Linked DNA regions of Homo sapiens: region 1 is linked to region 2. The links come from fine-mapping of genetic effects on gene expression. A gene starts in region 2. The other region holds a variant in brackets. All regions are shown on one strand. Distances are between the middles of the regions. Region 1 overlaps REEP1 (receptor accessory protein 1). Region 2 holds the start of REEP1 (receptor accessory protein 1).

The links.
Region 1: its variant is fine-mapped to the expression of REEP1 in tibial artery (GTEx, PIP 0.96).

The regions. Positions count from the first base shown.
Region 1 is chr2:86,217,249-86,225,248 of GRCh38, reverse strand. REEP1 (receptor accessory protein 1) reads left to right here. Exons shown (of 9, transcript NM_001371279.1): 8 at 5,128-5,279. Among named protein-coding and RNA genes, the nearest start is that of MRPL35, 22 kb to the right of the region's middle. RefSeq lists an enhancer at 6,789-7,083. The variant T/C (reference allele first, on the strand shown) is at 3,964.
Region 2 is chr2:86,333,544-86,342,455 of GRCh38, reverse strand. REEP1 (receptor accessory protein 1) reads left to right here and starts at 4,830. Exons shown (of 9, transcript NM_001371279.1): 1 at 4,830-4,977. The coding sequence starts at 4,946.

The DNA of each region.
Region 1 (8,000 bases), 120 kb after region 2:
AAACTGAACTGACAGAGGAGTCTGAGCAGGGCTGCAGATGGAGAGAAGCGTCCCAGCCCAGCTCTGACTAACCCTGTGTCCCTGTGGGGCCTCCTGGTCCAAGTTGGAAATGAAGGGGCTGCGTTCAGCTGTTTCCAGCACCGGGCACTAGACGCTGGCCTGGTGGACACACTAGTTCATGGGAAATGACCCTGTGGTGCCAGTGGCTCCAGGCAATTGCAGGGATTTCTGTCTATTCACACTGTAGTTTTGAGTCTGCAAATTCTGTGAGCCATTCCAAAAGCCTCTAATTCTGGGAGATTGGCACTTGGGGGTCGGGGAGAGTGGCTGCCCTGTCCTCCATTCTTCCCCTGACACTGCTCTGTGCTGCTCTCAGAAGCCCTTCCCTGCCATGACATCTGGTGGTTTCATGATCAGACACAGTGTTTCCAGTGCATTTCAATAGAGCTGTGGTTGATTGTAGGAACTGAATAGTTCTGGAAGGCTGCATGTGCATAAGAGTGTGTCCAGGATTCAGTGTCCAAGTTCTGGTTCCTTATCCCCGAGCAGGTTGGTTGCTGCTGGGATGGGGGTTGCTGGACAGCGGGAAGCAGGTGAGGCCTGGTGGTGGCCTCAAGACCTGGAAGCCGTTGTCCTAGCCCTTCCTTTCTTGGACCTCCGCCTCTCCAAGGGCCTCTTAATACCTGTGCCCTGGCTCTCAGGTCTGCATGCAAGGAACCCTTTGATGATTGGCCTACACCATTCCCTCTGAGGCCTTGGGAAAGCCCCTGCACTCTGCAGGCCTCAGTCTCCCCCTCCATGAGGTGTCCCTTGGTCCTCCCAGCTCTGACAGTCTCTACTGGATTGTGCAGTGGTGGCAGATGGTGTTGGGGGAGGTCTGTCTTGCACCTGGGGCTATAGGCTGACTCTTAAGCAGTAAGAGGATTTCACAGTTGTCGGGGACACTTTCCTCCTGGTCCCCTGAAATGTTGTCACAAGGGGTGCTCACTCAGGCCAAAGCCTGGGAAGATTCAAATTACCTCTGGGGCCATGCAGAGCCCCAGGATCCCTCAGCAGACAGGAACATTTTCTAGGAGTTGTAAATTCAGGTCTTAATTCATGATGGGGGTAGGGAAAGGAGGCATTTCGGAGGCTGCTAAGTGCCTTTTAGGGCAGTGACAGAGCTTAGAGGCCCCAGGGGCAGCAGCCTCTATTCTAAGCTGCACATCTCAGATGCCAGAACATTCTTTTCCCATCTTTGCTCTGTTCCTGCCCCATTTGTCAACTGATTCCCTATTGTTTTCTGCATGTCTTTGTCTCTCTTTTTCTGTGTGTCTATTATTATCTCTCTCTCTCTTTTTTTTTTTCTCTGCCTACCTCTATGTCATATAGAACTGAACTCTGGATTACTGCCTGTGTGGTTAGTCATAGAGGTGTCCCTCCCCCCCTTTTAAAATCAAGCATGTAGGACATAATTTTTAAAAGCAGTCATCCTTTTTGTCCTCTCAGAGAGAGAGAGAGAGAGAGAGAGAGAATTGCATTTTGAGTGTGGCCTCTGGGCAGTGTCCTTCTGATTATAGCAGGAGGAGCTGCCTGAGGTTTAGAGCATGGGAAGTGAGTGAGCATGTGTGTGTCTACATGTGTGTATGTGAGTGTGTCTGTGTGTGAGTGTGTGTGGATGGGGATGTGTGCATGGTGCACACGTGTGAGTTTTAGTGCCAAAGACCCTTCTCTAACGGAATGTTCTTTTCTCTCTCCTCGGTGCTGTTGGGGACGTGGATGTAAGTGTTCCAGACAGGCGTGCTCTTCTGCAGACATTTGCTGCCTTCCATTAATGCTCCCGCTAATGTGTGCTGTGTGGGATGTTTTTGCTAACCTGGGGGAGGTTCTGCTGCACTGCAGGGGTGCGGCAGCCCTGGGCCCACTGCAGGCTACACAGGCCTTTAAAGGGCTGAGAGGCTCTGCCAGTTTCTCCCTCCCTCCCTTCCCCACAGAGAGAAGAGGTGGAGCCTGCAGCCCTGGCTGCTGTAGCCCTGCTGACACATTTGCTAATACAGAAACATCAGCCAAGGCCACACACCCATTCCCCTGCTGTGGAAGACGGCAGAAACCCTGCCCTTTCCTAGAAGCAACCCAGCTTTGGGCATCATAGTGGCAGCTCTGCAGGCTCAAGGCCGTGGCCACCATCACCTGAGGTTTGCAAGTTGTTATGGCCATGACCTTGGGCGGGAGACCCTCCTCCCACACACATTGTCTCTGGGAGCCAATTAGAGTACTAAGATGTGGATAGCAATACTCTTTCAGGCCTGTTGCCAGGGGTAAGGACCTGTTGGGTCACCAATCTTTAGATCTTCAGGGACAAGAACATGGAGGAGGCAGAGCATGGGATTTTCTACCCAGCTACTCACTCTCCTGCTCCTCCTGGTGCCCCTCTTTTGGGACTATGTTCTGTGGGGTTCATTTCTCCATTTATACTCCTTCCTGATATAAAAAGGAGTTAGGTCTACTTGTGGAAATATATCTAAAGTAGCAAATCAAAGTAAGAAAATTGAAGCATGGGGAGAAGGGAGTGGGCAAGTAAGATGGAATCAGTGGGGAGAAGGACATTTTAAATGCATACCATCAAGGTGTAGACTGTTGAGACACCTGGCTTCCTTGAAACCACTGCAAAGAGGGAAATACAATTATTAAGAGATTCAGTCCACTGTGCAACAGCCAGCTAGAGGCGTGGAAGCTTGTCTTATTTAGAATGTTTATTCTCACTGGTTCTGAGAGTAAGGCAAATATTATAGACAACACTCTTGGCAGAAATGCTCAGCGGACACAGTGACTAGGAGATGTCTTATCTTCTTAGGAGGTTCTCTCTGTAGCTTCTTCCTGAGGCTATTCTGGCTCCCTCACTGCCCACACTGGCCTCTTTTGCTCCCAGCCTCTGCTGAGCTGAGCACTTGTTTCTATTCCTGCTTGGATATCTGGGTTGTCCTTGAACCATCACTCCTACTGGGCTGGAGGGTCATTTCTTTTCTACCCTGCAATCCTTGCAGTGGAGAACATGCACAAAGCCATTTTGGTTTCAGTCCTGAGATTATAGTGATGATGGTGATTTTGGTAAGTGTGAGTTCATTGCTCAGCCTCAGTGAATCCAGACTGGATAACTAGCCTGGGTTGTTAGATGCCTGAGGATCTCACGGTGACTTTGGGCCACCTTCTGACACCCACAACCATCAGTACAGGGAAAGCCCTGGACCTGGATGTGGAGGGTACAGCATATGCAGAGGCACAGTCTCGAACCGGTACCCACCCCACTTCCATGTCATGGAGTTGGCTGCTGGGGTGGAGCTGGCCAGGCTGCTTCTGCAGTTTTTGCCTTGGTCTGAGGGCTTTTGGTCTTTTTTCCCTCCTGCCAGGCAGGAGGTATCTGTGTCCAGAAGGAATTTCCTGGTTTGGTTAATGGGGGTGTCAAGCTCTGACTTGGGACTAGAGCTGAGCTCTCTGAGATGACTTCAGGATTCTATTTAGTTTAGTTGATGAGTGGCCACTGTGTGCCCAGCCCTGGGTCAGGTGCTCAGAGAGACTGAGGGAGGATCAGCCATGGCCCCCCAGTCTCAGGATGCCTTCTGTTGGCTGAGGCAATGAGACTGACATGAGGACCAGGGCACCCAACACAAGCTGTGTGGCACAGCCTCCAAGCACTGTCGGGTCTCAGAGTGGGGAGGCCAGGGAGGGTCAGAGTATTCAGCGAGGGCTCCCTGGAGTCACTGGTCTTTGTGCTCAACAGGATGCAGCTGATTAGGACAGAGGAAGGGAGCAGAGGACAAACTAAGCCCAGAGTAAATAAGCTGAGGGAAGTGCAGAGTAGAAATAAAATAATAATAGTAATTTAAAAATCAAAGGAACATCAGTGATCTCAGGACTTTACTTACTAAGGCCCAGTCTGAACCAATCACACCCCAGCCTAAAATTCAGCTTTGCATGTTGTGCTGC[T/C]TCCTGCTGGCTGTTGGGGAGCACAGCAGTGGTAACTGGTAAAGCTGCCCAAGATTAGGGTTCAGTTGTCTGTTTTTTTACTCCACGCCTGGTGGTGGTATAGTCTAGCAAGTCCACTGTTGATGGAGAGAGAGCACATTCGGTGGCTGAATATGTTCTTAGGAGCAGGGTGTCTCAAGAAGAGCTGTGGTTTCTATCTGGAGGCCTCACGGTGATTGGACCAGATGACTTGAGAACCCCTTAGTCTTGCATTCTGTGATTCTAGGTAAAAACAATAGATGCAGCATAGAAAAATGTGTGTGTGTGATACCAGATAAGCTGGGTAGGGGCAGAAGATATTTTACATCTCAACTAAGAACCGCCTAGCAGATGACATGGAATATGTATTAGCATTTAACATTTAAAAAATACTGTGCGTTCAATGAGATGAATTAATTCTGAAGCTTTTCCCGCAGATGTATTCAAGGCAGACTGAAACAGGAATCTTGCTATCATTTTTTTTGGCAGAGGCATCTGTCAGATTCTCCTTCCTTAGGTTTCTCTGCTTCTCTAGGACTGGGCCTTCGCAAAAAAAAAAACAAACAAAAAAACTATATAGCTTTGTTTAAGGTTATCACTTAAGGCCTCCTGGCATTTTATATCCTGTCTCTTACAGGATGCTTGGAATTGAATATGCAAGTATAATATACAATGTCAACATGGCTTGTATGTACAACATAGAAACTGCTCTCCCACCCCACCCCACATCACTGCTGCCATCCTCTCTAGAGGAGATTCTTTCCCTGAGCATTCACCTGGTGTGGGATCACAGGACTGAGCTGCAGGGATTGATGTGTCTCAGTTAAAGCCGCTTCTTTCTTCACCCAGGGAAGTGATGCCCCCTTAGTAAATCTACTGAATTACTCAGAATTCAGTAGATTCTGAGTCTGTGGTTGTTTCTGTGCACAGTGCCTGGAGATTCACACAACTGCACTTTCACAATCCCAGATCCCCTGTAAGGAGGCCCCCAAAACATCAGTGCTTCCTCAGACCGAGGGGCCTCAGCTGTCCTCACAGGCCTGGTTTGCTGTGCTGTGTGCCTAACCTTGCCCTTCCCTGCTCCCTGCACTGATGCTTCCTTGCTATACCTTGTCTCATCTGTGTAGATTGTAAATGGACATTAAGTGGTTGAGGGAGATGTGAATGAGGGTGGTATGAAGGCATGGGAGCCCCACCAGGTCCAAAACCCATTGGCGTTTTCTGACGACGAGGAGGAAGACCTGCTGGATTTCATGTACAAGTATAAAGCACCTCGAAGGATGGAATTGCCCCTGGAGGTACACAGTGTCTGGGGCTGTGGGTTGGAGTGTGTTTGTCCAAAGGCTATGCCCTGGAGATTGGGGGTCCTGGGAGCAGCATCTCTTGGGGCACCAACATCTCCTCAATACCTGGGGTGGAAAGATCTCCTTCCATCAAACAAGCAGAACCAGTCACTGGATAGCATCCAGCTACTTGCCAAGGAGAGGAAATCCTATTAATTTCATTTAGAAATAGGAGCGTGAGCCGGGTGCAGTGGCTTATGCCTGTAATCCCAGCACTTTGGGAGGCCGAGGCAGGTGGATCACCTGAGGTCAGGAGTTCGAGACCAGCCTGGCCAACATGGCAAAACCCCTTATCTACTGAAAATACAAAAATTAGCCGGGTGTAGTGGCGCGCACCTGTAGTCCCAGCTGCTTGGGAAACTGAGGCAGGAGACTCGCTTGAACCCAGGAGGAGGAGGTTGCAGTGAGACTGCACTGCTGCACTCCAGCCGGGATGACACAGCGAGACTCCTTCTCAAAAAAAAAAAAAAAAAGAAAAGAAAAACAAATAGGAGAGTGGTAAAGTATCTAGGTCTTTATTGTTTTGTTTTGGTTTTTCCAGGTATTAACAACTACCACTCTAAGTTGACGTACAAGTGAAAAACAACCCAAATTGACTGTTTTGGGGGAAGAAAACTCAGAATGTGTTATTTGAAAAGTTTTTATAAATAAGAACAAGGCTTGTTCATCGCTGTATCTCCAAGACACAGCATATAGTGCCTGGTATAAAGTAGCTATTCATGAAATGTTAGTGAAGGGGTATAGCCCTTTAGGGTTACCAAAACCAATACCCTTGACATATATGCTATTTTCAGTTGTAGGATGTGGATGGAGTTCTGGCAGCAGGAGGGCTGAGCCTGGAGCCTCCTGGGCCTTGCTCTGTGATGTGGGTAGGGAGTCACCAGTCATGAGCACAGGTGCAGGGACCCCAGTCTTTCTCTCTGCTTCCTAAGGTCTCCTCTCCTATTCCCCATCTGCTGAGTATCACGGCCTGAGAGGCCATCTGAAGCAAATAGGAAGTCTCCGTACAGACCCTTGTGAGACTTATATGGGGAGATGCCTTGAAATGTTCCCTTCTGCAGACACTGAGCAGCCTAGCATTCTTATTTGTTAGGACTGTAATTATGACCACCTCCATGTGCAGTTCATCAGGTTCCTTTGCAAGGTGAGGCACACATGCATCCCTTTTAAAGTTAGAGGGTTTGGGAAAGGATGTTCTGGGCTTGGACACTGCTGGAGGAGTCTGGCCTGGGCAATCTGGCCTGGGCAGCCTCCTGATGGGGAGAGGAGCCCAGCCTAAAGAATTCTAAGGCCCAAGGGTTTGTGCTGTTTTGCTTTTGTTTATTAAAGCTGCACAAACTGCTTTACTGTTTACAGTTCACCAGCCTGCCAAGAGGCAGATTACTATAAAGGTGGGTTCCGTTGTTTCCGTTTTCAGTGTCTGTCCAGAGGTGGCTGGTAAGCATTTCCTAGTGGTAAGGCTGTAGCATGAGGACTCTATGAGAGGGCCTGAGTCTTGTTTTCTGGCTCATTCACTTCCTGCCTTGTATGTGCCTGCCCAGCACTGAGCCACTTACCAGGAAATGGTGGTGAATGCGACATGGGCCTGCCCTCAGGAAGTCCCCAGTCTGGTGGGGAGAGAGTGAGCAGGGCCCCCACACACTCCCTTCCCACTGGGTGCAAAGTCCTCTGCTGGGGGACATGTACAAAACATGAGAGAACAAAGGAGGTGACGATGCCTGGTTGTGCATGGCTGGGCAGTGGCAGGAGGGGCTCCGGGAAACCTTTGCAGAAGTGACTTTTGAGCTGGGTCCTCAAGAGGCCTAGAAATATGCAAGACAGAGGAGGGAGGGAAGGGCTTCCAGTCAGAAGGAATAGAGGCATGAATGGGCACAGTGTAGAGAAAGAAGTTCTCTGTGTATACAGAGAAGTGGACAGACACGGGGGCCAAGGGTAGGTTGGGGCCAGTTGTGTGAACCCCCTCAAGTGCTGTGCCAGAAAATGTTCCCTTCACTTTCATTGAAATAGGAACTCCTCCTGTGATCTGTGTATCCCATGGAAGGAGGGGTCTCTTGAGAGTCATTTGTGGGAGAGATGAGGTGGAGCCCTTCATATAAGTTGAGCATCCCTAATCGAAAAATCTGAAATTCTTTGAGTGTGGACAAGACGCACAAAGGTCATGCTCATAGGAGCATTTTGAATCTCAGATTTTCAGATTGGGGTGCTCAATTGGAATGTATATGCAAACATCCCAAAATCTGAAAAAAAAAAAAAAAAAATCTGAAATCCCAAACACTTCTGACTCCAGGCATTTCCGGATAAGGGATATTCAACCTGTACTTCAAGGTGGTGTTTGCCTTTGTGGTGTGGTGTGCTGTACATTAAGAGGTTTCTCATCCAGAAAGGGGACTGGAAATTTGATGATGGAAATTTGAGGCATGTACCAAAACACATTAGGCTGGTTCCCAAAGGAAATAACAAAAGCAAAGGAAGCATGCGGAGGTGTCTCTTTCTGCTGAATCATTTAAGATAATTTTGCTCCTCAGGCAGAAACAAGAAAGATGTGTCATTCTGCACAACCGTTCCCTTGGGAGATTGAGGAGCATAATTTAAGAGGGAGGCATCAGCCTCTCAAAGGGCTCAGCTTCATGCGATATGTGGGATGGGACTCTGATGATTGCTTCCTGTTGCGGAGAT
Region 2 (8,912 bases):
CCTGTAATCTCAGCACTTTGGGAGGCTGAGGTGGGTGGATCACCTGACATCAGGATTTCGAGACCAGCCTGGCCAACATGGTGAAACCCTGTCTCTACTAAAATATATTAATTAGCTGGGTGTGGTGGTACATGCCTATAATCCCAGCTACTCAGGAAGCTGAGGCAGGAGGGTTGCTTGAACCTGGGAGGCAGAGGTTGTGGTAAGCCAAGATCGTGCCACTGCATTCCAGCCTGGGGAACACAGCCAGACTCCATCTCAAAAAAAAAAAAAAGAAACTGTCTGACCAGTTTCTAAGGTTGGAACATGGGGAGAATCATTCACCAAAAAAAGTAGAGAGTTCTTCCCAGAAGAAAGGGGAAGGGTGTGAGGCAAAAGTAATTTCCACTTTTTTTGAAATATAGAAAACCATTTTTCAAAGTAGTATCATTTTACTTTCCCACCAGCAGCATATGAGAGTTCCAGTTGCTCCATATCCTTGCCAGAACATGAAATGATCAGTCTTTTTCATTGTAGCCATTCTTAAATGTGTGCAGTAATATCTTCTTGTGATTTCAATTTGTATTTCCCTAATTAATGATTAATGATGTTGAATATTTTTTTCATGTACTTTTTGTTTTTCCATTTGTATTTTTTCTTTGGTGAAATGTCTGTTCAAATATTATAAAATTGAAGGTATTTATTTGCTTATTGCATTATTTCTGTCACTTCATGGTCTGTTTCTATTGGTTGATTTTTCAACCTGCTTACAAGTCATTTTCTTTGCATGCCTGATAATTTTTGTTTGCATGTTGGACATTGTGAATTTTATCTTATTGGGTGTTGGGTTTTGTTGTTGTTTGTTTTGTAACTAATCTTGGACTTTTTTTTTTCTCTGAGCACAGTTAAGTTACTTGAGATCAATTTGATCCTTTTGAAGATTGCTTTTAAGTTTTGTTAAGGCAGGACCAGATAAGTGTTTATTTTAGGGCTAATTTAGCCTCCCCCTGCATTAAGATGATACCCTTCTGTGGACTCTGGCCAATGCTTTGTGTATAAAAGGTCTCTGTTTTGGCTGGTATGAAGACAAATTACTTCCAGCCCTGTGTGAGCTCCAGGAATTGTTTGGCATACTGCTTTCTGGTAGTTCTTCCCATGGCCTCATAGAATTTCACCCATGCATGCCTAGGACAGTATTCAGCTAATGACTTGAAGTGACTGCTCTGCAGATCTCTGCAACTCTCTCTCTAATCATCTCCCATCACTCTTATATTCTGCTTCACAAATTCTAGCCACTTTGGCTTCCCTGGACTCTGATCTGTCTCCTGTGTTCTGTGAAATTTCTGGGCTCTGTTTGGGTTCTCCATCCCTACAGTGATGCCTGGAAACTGCTTTGAGACAGTAAGCTCGGACGTAAGACTCACTTCATTTGTTTCTCTTCTCTTAGTTATCACAGTCCTGTGCTCTGTTGTTCAATGCTTAAAAACAGTTGCTTCTTGCCGGGCACGGTGGCTCACACCTGTAATCCCAGCACTTTGGGAGTCCGAGGAGGGTGGATCACGAGGTCAGGAGATCGAGACCACCCTGACTAACACGGTGAAACCCCGTCTCATCTCTACTAAAAATACAAAAAACTAGCTGGACATACTGGTGGCTACCTGTAGTCCCAGGTACTCGGGAGACTGAGGCAGGAGAATGGTGTGAACCTAGGAGGCGGAGCTTGCAGTGAGCCGAGATCACAGCACTGCACTCCAGCCTGGGCGACAGAGTGAGACTCCGTCTCAAACAAACAAGTAAAGAAAAACAGTTGTTTCTTTTTTTTGATCCTGTTTTTCTAGTTGTTTGCAATGGGAGGACAATTCCCACAGCAGCCAATGCTTCATAGAAGAAAGTGGAATTCTCTTTTTTCTATTTTCAACTTTAAAAATCCCAAGGGAGATCGTTGGCCCAGTTTCTGTTTGGTGATCACCCATAAGCCAATCAAGGTAGTGAGGATATATAAGAAAATCACAGTTTCTAAGGTTGGAGTATGGGGAGACTCATTCCCCAGTGAAAAACAGAGAGCTCTTCCCAGAAGAAAGGGGAAGGGTACAGGGTAAAAACAGATGAGAGACATCTATTATCAAAGCAGTTCTTATGAAAAAGAACTTGAAGTCAAGAAACTGATAGAGCTGTAAGAGTTCCATTGTCTAGAAGGTGGAGTCCGTTCCCTGGCCACATGTTTTCCAGGGCCAAGGACAAACAAGAGCAGGTCCAGGATAGAGAGATACAATAAGTGTAACAGTTACACTGAAAGAGACAGAATGCAGTACAAAAGCAACTTTCTTTCTTTCTTTCTTCTTTTCCCTCCTCTACCCATCCAAGTCCGCTCTATGGACAAGTTCTTTCTCATCCCTTGTGAGAAATATGTGTTGGTCTCACTAGTTTTCTGGTCCTCTTCAGCTAATGAAAAGACCTCAAGATATTTTAACCCCATGAATAGTTTCATTTTGGTAATTAAAATGCTCAGTCCTGTGCAATAGTCAAATCTGAGAATTCCACTTATAGGGAGTAGGGAACAAGCATGTGGTCACCTCTTCTTTATTTTCCCACCAACAGGGTCTCTTTGAACCACAGTAGTCCATCCCTCCGCTGCTCCCCCTGCAAGATGGGTAACAGCCTTTCTGACGCAGGGAGCATAGGTGAGGGGTATGGATGGAGGGGAAGGGAGGTCTCAGGAAGGTCCTCTGTGCTGGGTGCTGTCCTGATCTAGCTTTGGTGTTCTCTTTGCCTAGTAAGTATGGAAAGCTTTTCCCCGTGGAGCATTGTTTTACCCGTATAACCTTACCTTGAGTGAGATATGGTGGGGCCAGACACAGATCAAGAGAGAGAAGCTAGAAAGAGTTTTAGAGCTTTTTATATCCACAGTTTCCTGGAGAGATCACAGCACACCATGCAGGTCCACTCAGGGCCAGGGTCTGTCACAGAGAGAGGGAGAGAGGGGAATTGTGGACAAACATCTTTATCATGGTTTCTGAGGGAAGGAAAGAGTGAAATAAGGCAAGCAGATATAGGATAGGCTAATTTGGATAATTTCAGCGGGTTCTGAAGTACAGGGGCTGTAACTAGTTGTTTGGTGCCTAGCCCTGGACAGGTGTATAGTGTCCCGCGTGTGAGAGCCTGCTAACGGAAGTGGTTGGGGGTATGCAGTTAATAGACTGCTGGAGAAGGGGAACTGACCAGCCTCCAGCCTGAGCCTCAAAACTGGGTCAAGGCAGCATGAAAAAACTGCTACATTACAGCTATTTTATGGGTTCTTTGGAGACCTGAGATATGAGAGCATGTCTCATCTGCAGTCCCTTTGTTGTCCGTGAAGTCTTTCTTCTGACTATATCAGGCACACGCACGCACAGATTCTGCTACATCTGAGAGTACTAAGCTGTCTCCTGCGCTTCTCACATCTGACACTGAATTATACATGACACCATCATCAGCAAAGGACAGGGCGCTGGGAGCACCACGCAGAACCTAAGCTATTGGAGGGTGGGAAAAGCAGCAGCAGAGCCTAGGAGTAGAGGACAAAGCGTTTCCAGTGTAACAGAATAATGTACTATCTGCGGCCGGGACTAGGGTGAGCAGAGTGAGGCGCTCAGTGAGGGTGCAACATTTAAGAGGTGCCATAAAATTCAGCAACTAAAATACATAATAGGTGGCTCACTCCTGTAATCCCAGCACTTTGGGAGGCCAAGGCGGGCGGATCACGAGGTCAGGAGTTTGAGACCAGCCTGGACAACATGGTGAAACCCCGTCTCTACTAAAAATACAAAAATTAGCTGGGCGTGGTGGCGCACTCCTGTAATCTCAGCTACTCATGAGGCTGAGGCAGAAGAATCGCTTGAACCCGGGAGGCGGAGCTTGCAGTGAGCCGAGATCGCGCCACTGCACCCCAGAGCGAGACTCTGTCTCATAAAAAAACAACAACAACAAAAAAAACCACCATAATATTTAATACGGTATTTTAAAAAATACATAAAAACGTTTATATAGGGTGCACAAGTTCCCTTTTGCCTAAGAGTTCAACGTGGCTCAGCGGGGCACTGGTGCTAAGCAGTCGCAGCTTCTAGTCTCCTCCTAGGGCCCGGAGCAGCCCCCAAGGAAAGGCCTTCCCTAGGAAGAAGTAGCCCTTCAGCCCAGCCTAGAAGAAGGAGCTGAATCAAACCAAGGCAGGACGATGAGGCGTGGCGTGTACTGACAGGGAAGAAGAAACAGCAAATATTTGAGTCCAAGATGCCTGGAGGGAAAAGAGCTAGAGGACTATTTGGGGGAATGGTCTTGGCAACACGGTTCTAGGCAGGTACCACGATCATATAGGGACTCTGTAGAATTTTAAGTAGGGAGGCAAGCGCCCAGGTTTGTTTCTTATGCAGAAAGTGCTGAGCAACGGACAGACTGAAGAGGTTAGGTCTGGATCCAGGTAAACCCTTTATGAGGCTAACGCACTAGCTGAATGAGGGATGACAGCATCCCACCTAGACAGGTGCAGACAGATTCCCGAGGTTCAGGTTCGGACTTCAGTTTCTCCGCTGGAACGCTGAGGGTGGGGCAGCACCCGGGTCCCTGCCCTGCAAACGGGGCCGCTGCAGGGTTCCTTTGGCGGGGCCGGTGCCCCGGGGAGCGCGCAGGACGCGCCCGCCTTCAGCCGGGGGCCAGGGCGAGCGGGACGGGGCGGGCCCGCGGGTGCCCTGACCAGCTCACCGCCCAATCGCTGCGGGCCCGCCGAGCCCCGGGGGGCTGGGGCCGCCGCCGCCGCCGCCAGAACGTGCCGCGGCTGCGCCAACGCGCGAACGCCGGGCAGGGCGGCGGGCGCGCTCAGTCTGGCGGCGGCTGCCGTGAGCTGACTGACGTTCCGGGAACGCCGCAGCAGCCCGCGCCGCCCGCAGCCTAGCCGAGCCGCGCCGCCCGGGCCTCGCCCGCCCGCCTGCCCGCCATGGTGTCATGGATCATCTCCAGGCTGGTGGTGTAAGTGGCCTTCTCCCCCGCGCCCCTCCGTCCCCTCCCTCCCCGCCCCCGGCCCCGGGCTGCGCGCGCCCCTACAGCGCCCGGTCCCAGTGGCTCGGGCTATTAATACCCGGCGCAGCTAAATTTAGCAGGTACAGTAGCCGCCGAGGACGCCTGCGGGCGGACGGGCGGCGCAGGACGCGGCTGCTGCCCAGGAGGCAGCCGGCGCCGGCGGCCGCTTGCGGGGGGCTGGGCCGGGACGGCGAGGGCTGGGGCGCTCGGGGGTTCCGTGGGGGCTGCGTCTCGCCGCGCGCTGGCCGCTTTGTTCCTCAGCTCGGTCGATTTGCAGAGGCCCCGAATGGGCGCACCGCGGACACGCGTCTCTCTCCTTTGGCAGAAATGTGAGGTCGCCCGGCGCCGCGCCCCGCCGCCCCAGCTTTTGTCAGGTGGAAAGGACAGCGCAGACGAACCAGGGGCGCTGCCTGGAGGGTCAGCGCGGAACGGGTGGAGAGGCAGAGGCGGGGCTCCCAGTGGGGTTGGAAAAATCCTCCTTTTTAGGTGTCTGCATCGACAGCGGCAAAGGCAGCTGGGACATGGGAAGACGCATGTGAATCTTGGAGTAAACGCCTGGAGCCCCCGGCTCCGACTCCTTTTGCAGGGGATTGAGAGACAGGGGCAGGTACCTCCAGGAATGCACGGGAAATTTTCAAGTGACAGCCACCCGCATGGTGGCGATGACACCTCCCAGGCCTTGCAGGAGAGCGCAGAGTCATCTAGGGTGAGGTCTGTGTGAAGTCATTGGGGGTGGGCGTGGGGGCCGATTTTCTCCTTCAAGCCCCAGGACCTGTAGGCGTTTGAAGAGCTTCCCCGGTGGATTTATTCTCCTTTGGAGATAGACGTGGCTGTTCCAAGTCCCTGTTCTTCCCTAACCATCCTGGCCTGAGTCAGAACAGATTTGCCACCTGCTGTAGCTAGCAGGGGCTGAAATGGGTGTGGGGAGTCTAAGGCGGGGAGGAGGGTGGCAGGCACCTCGGGCTTTTTCTTTGTCTGAGAACACGGGGCTCTGGACCCCAGTGATTGTGCACCATCACTCCCCACGTTTTGAAACACCACCCATCTCCCTTCCCTTCTTTACTGATTTTCCCTTCCGAAGTGGATCTCAGCATTGTCTCCCGCCACCATTCAGGGCTTTCCTCCCAAAGCCAGTGTCTGTGCCTCTCAGCCCCCAAGTCATTCCGTGAAGGCCTCTCCACAGCTGTTCCTGACTGCGGGGTGTTTGCGCTGCACCTTGAGGTGGCATGTTAAATATTTAGAAGATTTCTGCTGGCAGAGCCGACATGAATAATACAGGAAAGTGGCTGACACGCCTTGCCCAGCCTCATGCCTGACCAACACTGTCTTGCCTTCAGGGTGGTGTTTCCTCTCTGGGATCGATATTGCCAGTGGCTTCTGGGAAGCCCTCAGGGTGGGGCTGGAGAGTTGAGCTGGCCTGGCTGGTGGGCTCTCTGTAGGTCCTGCTGGGCTGGGAGTGAGGGCATCTGATCCTGGGTCATGTGACTATCATTAGTTTTATTAGCACTGGGTCATGTGACTATCATTAGTTTTATTAGCACCTCCCTCACCCCTGCCCTTTTTTTTTTTTTTTTTTTGAGACCGAGTCTCGCTCTGTCGCCCAGGCTGGAGAGTGCAGTGGCACAGTCTCGGCTCACTGAAGCCTCCGCCTCCTGGGTTCAAGCGATTCTCCTGCCTCAGCCTCCCGAGTAGCTGGGATTACAAGCGCCTGCCACCACGCCCAGCTAATTTTTGTATTTTTAGTAGAGACGGGGTTTCACCATGTTGGCCAGCCTGGTCTTGAACTCCTGACCTAGTGATCCGCCCGCTTCGGCCTCCCAAAGTTCTGGGATTACAGGCGTGAGCTACCACGCCCGGCTCCTCCCCCTTTTTTACAATGAGCAACTGATGGGGGTGGAGAGGAGAGGCATATATTTGGGAGGTGTCTCAGGGATGTGCTGTTGCTTTCTAAAACAACCACACTCCCTAGAACCGAGACTTCAGAGAATTTAAATGAACAGCATTATGTGGCCCAAGGAGAGTTGATGGGATTTGGGATTGTTACTTCCACTATCAAGTCCAAAAGGTCAGGGATACCACTTATCCCCCAGTCCCTAATTCCCTGTAGAAACCTAGCATAAGCATATTGATTATGAGTTATGAACATCATTTTTAATAAGCAATACCTGTTTCATGAAGACAATATTTGTTAATTACAGGAAAATTAGAAAAGATAAACTGAAAATCATCCACATTTCCACCACACAGAGATAACTAATAATAATGATGGAGGGCATATTCTTCAAGAAATTTTCCTGTATTGCATATATGTACATATATTTGTAATTCAAGGATATTATTGATTCAGCCCAATATTCTACACTCCACATACCTTGAGGAACTTCTTATCAAGGGGAGGAATACTGTGTTTGGAGTCAGAACGCCCATGGTTCAAATCCCAGTTTTGCCTCTTGCCAGAAGATCCCAGTTCACAACTCAGATCAGAGCAGATGCTAGTCCACAGCTAGTTAACCTCATGTTGCTGTTGCAAAGATTTCCATGACACTTGATATATAAATTGCCAAGCACCACGGAGAGCACTAAATCAATGATGAGTCCCTCCTTCTGTCCTCCCCGGGAACCCTATGAGAGGGGCTCTCAGACTTAATTTACTCCTGTGGTTTTCAAACTGGGTTCCCTGAGGGCCACCCAGCCTGAGCAGATGGGCTCTGGGCTCCTCATCCCTGATTCAACCCAAGCAGTTCCCTTTTTGTTTGTCTTATATATTGGGGTTCTAGATAAAATACAATTCAGAAAAATATATGTGTTTTACTGCTAATAAAAACAACTGATCTAGTCCTCCCCCTCATCTGTAAAACTGCAGAGGAAATATGCCTTGCTCAGGGACACAAGATGAGCTGGTGAAGAAAACAGGCTCTGGATTTTTAGTCCAGTCCAGTGCTTTTTCCACCTTCACTCCCCACTGAGAAAAACATCTCTTTCAAGCTCCCTAGACCTCTGGTATGGGAGCATCCTATGGTTTTATCCGCGAGTCACGTTTTGTATAAGTAATCTTTTCATGGTTTTGTAAGCCTCTGTCACATCAAAGAACATGTAAGGAAGACCTATCACTGTGTTGTGAGGATAGAGAGGGAGTGTCTTCCTGTCTTTGTGTGGTCCCAACCATCCGACCAGAGGTATCACAACAAGCTGATGGCCTCCAGGGACAGCCAGCCAGTGCTCGTGGTTGTCTCTGCTGCTACTGGCCGTGAGCATTTTGAAGAAAGCAATTGTGGCTTGTTTCCCTTTACAACCGCTTTATCCCTGCCATGGGTCTTTCACAAAGTATCTGGCACCTGAATGCACTGAGTGAAGGTTGGTTGTGTTGAAGGAAATCCTAGGCCCTGGGGACAAGCAGAGTGGCTGGCTACTGCTGTCCCCTGGGGACGGAGGTCAGCAGGCATCAAGACAGGCTTGTGCCCACGGGCAAGGCTCTTAGAGTGAGGACCAGTTTGAGATGCTTATTTCTTGCCAGCTCTCTTTCTCCTAACTTCCTTGGCTCAGCCTGTAAAGAATTAAGGAAGAGATACTCAGTGCAATAGCACTCAGAACCAGGTTGATACCTTCATGGGACACAGGGGCTTATTTAGGACTTGCCTGCTTGCCTCCTTTCATTTTCTTTACATACAACTCAAGGCCTAGGCATGAATGAATTTCAAACTGGGGAGAGCATGTTTTTGTGCACCCTTTTGGAGGGGGGATACCAACGTTGCTCTGTGACTTCTTGGAAGAATATGCCATTTTGAAGCATTATTCTAAGGAGCAGGTATTGCCTCATTGTCTTGGCCAAGGCCCAGAATGTTGGCTGAACGGATCAAGAGCTTCTCACCCCTTATGGGATTAGT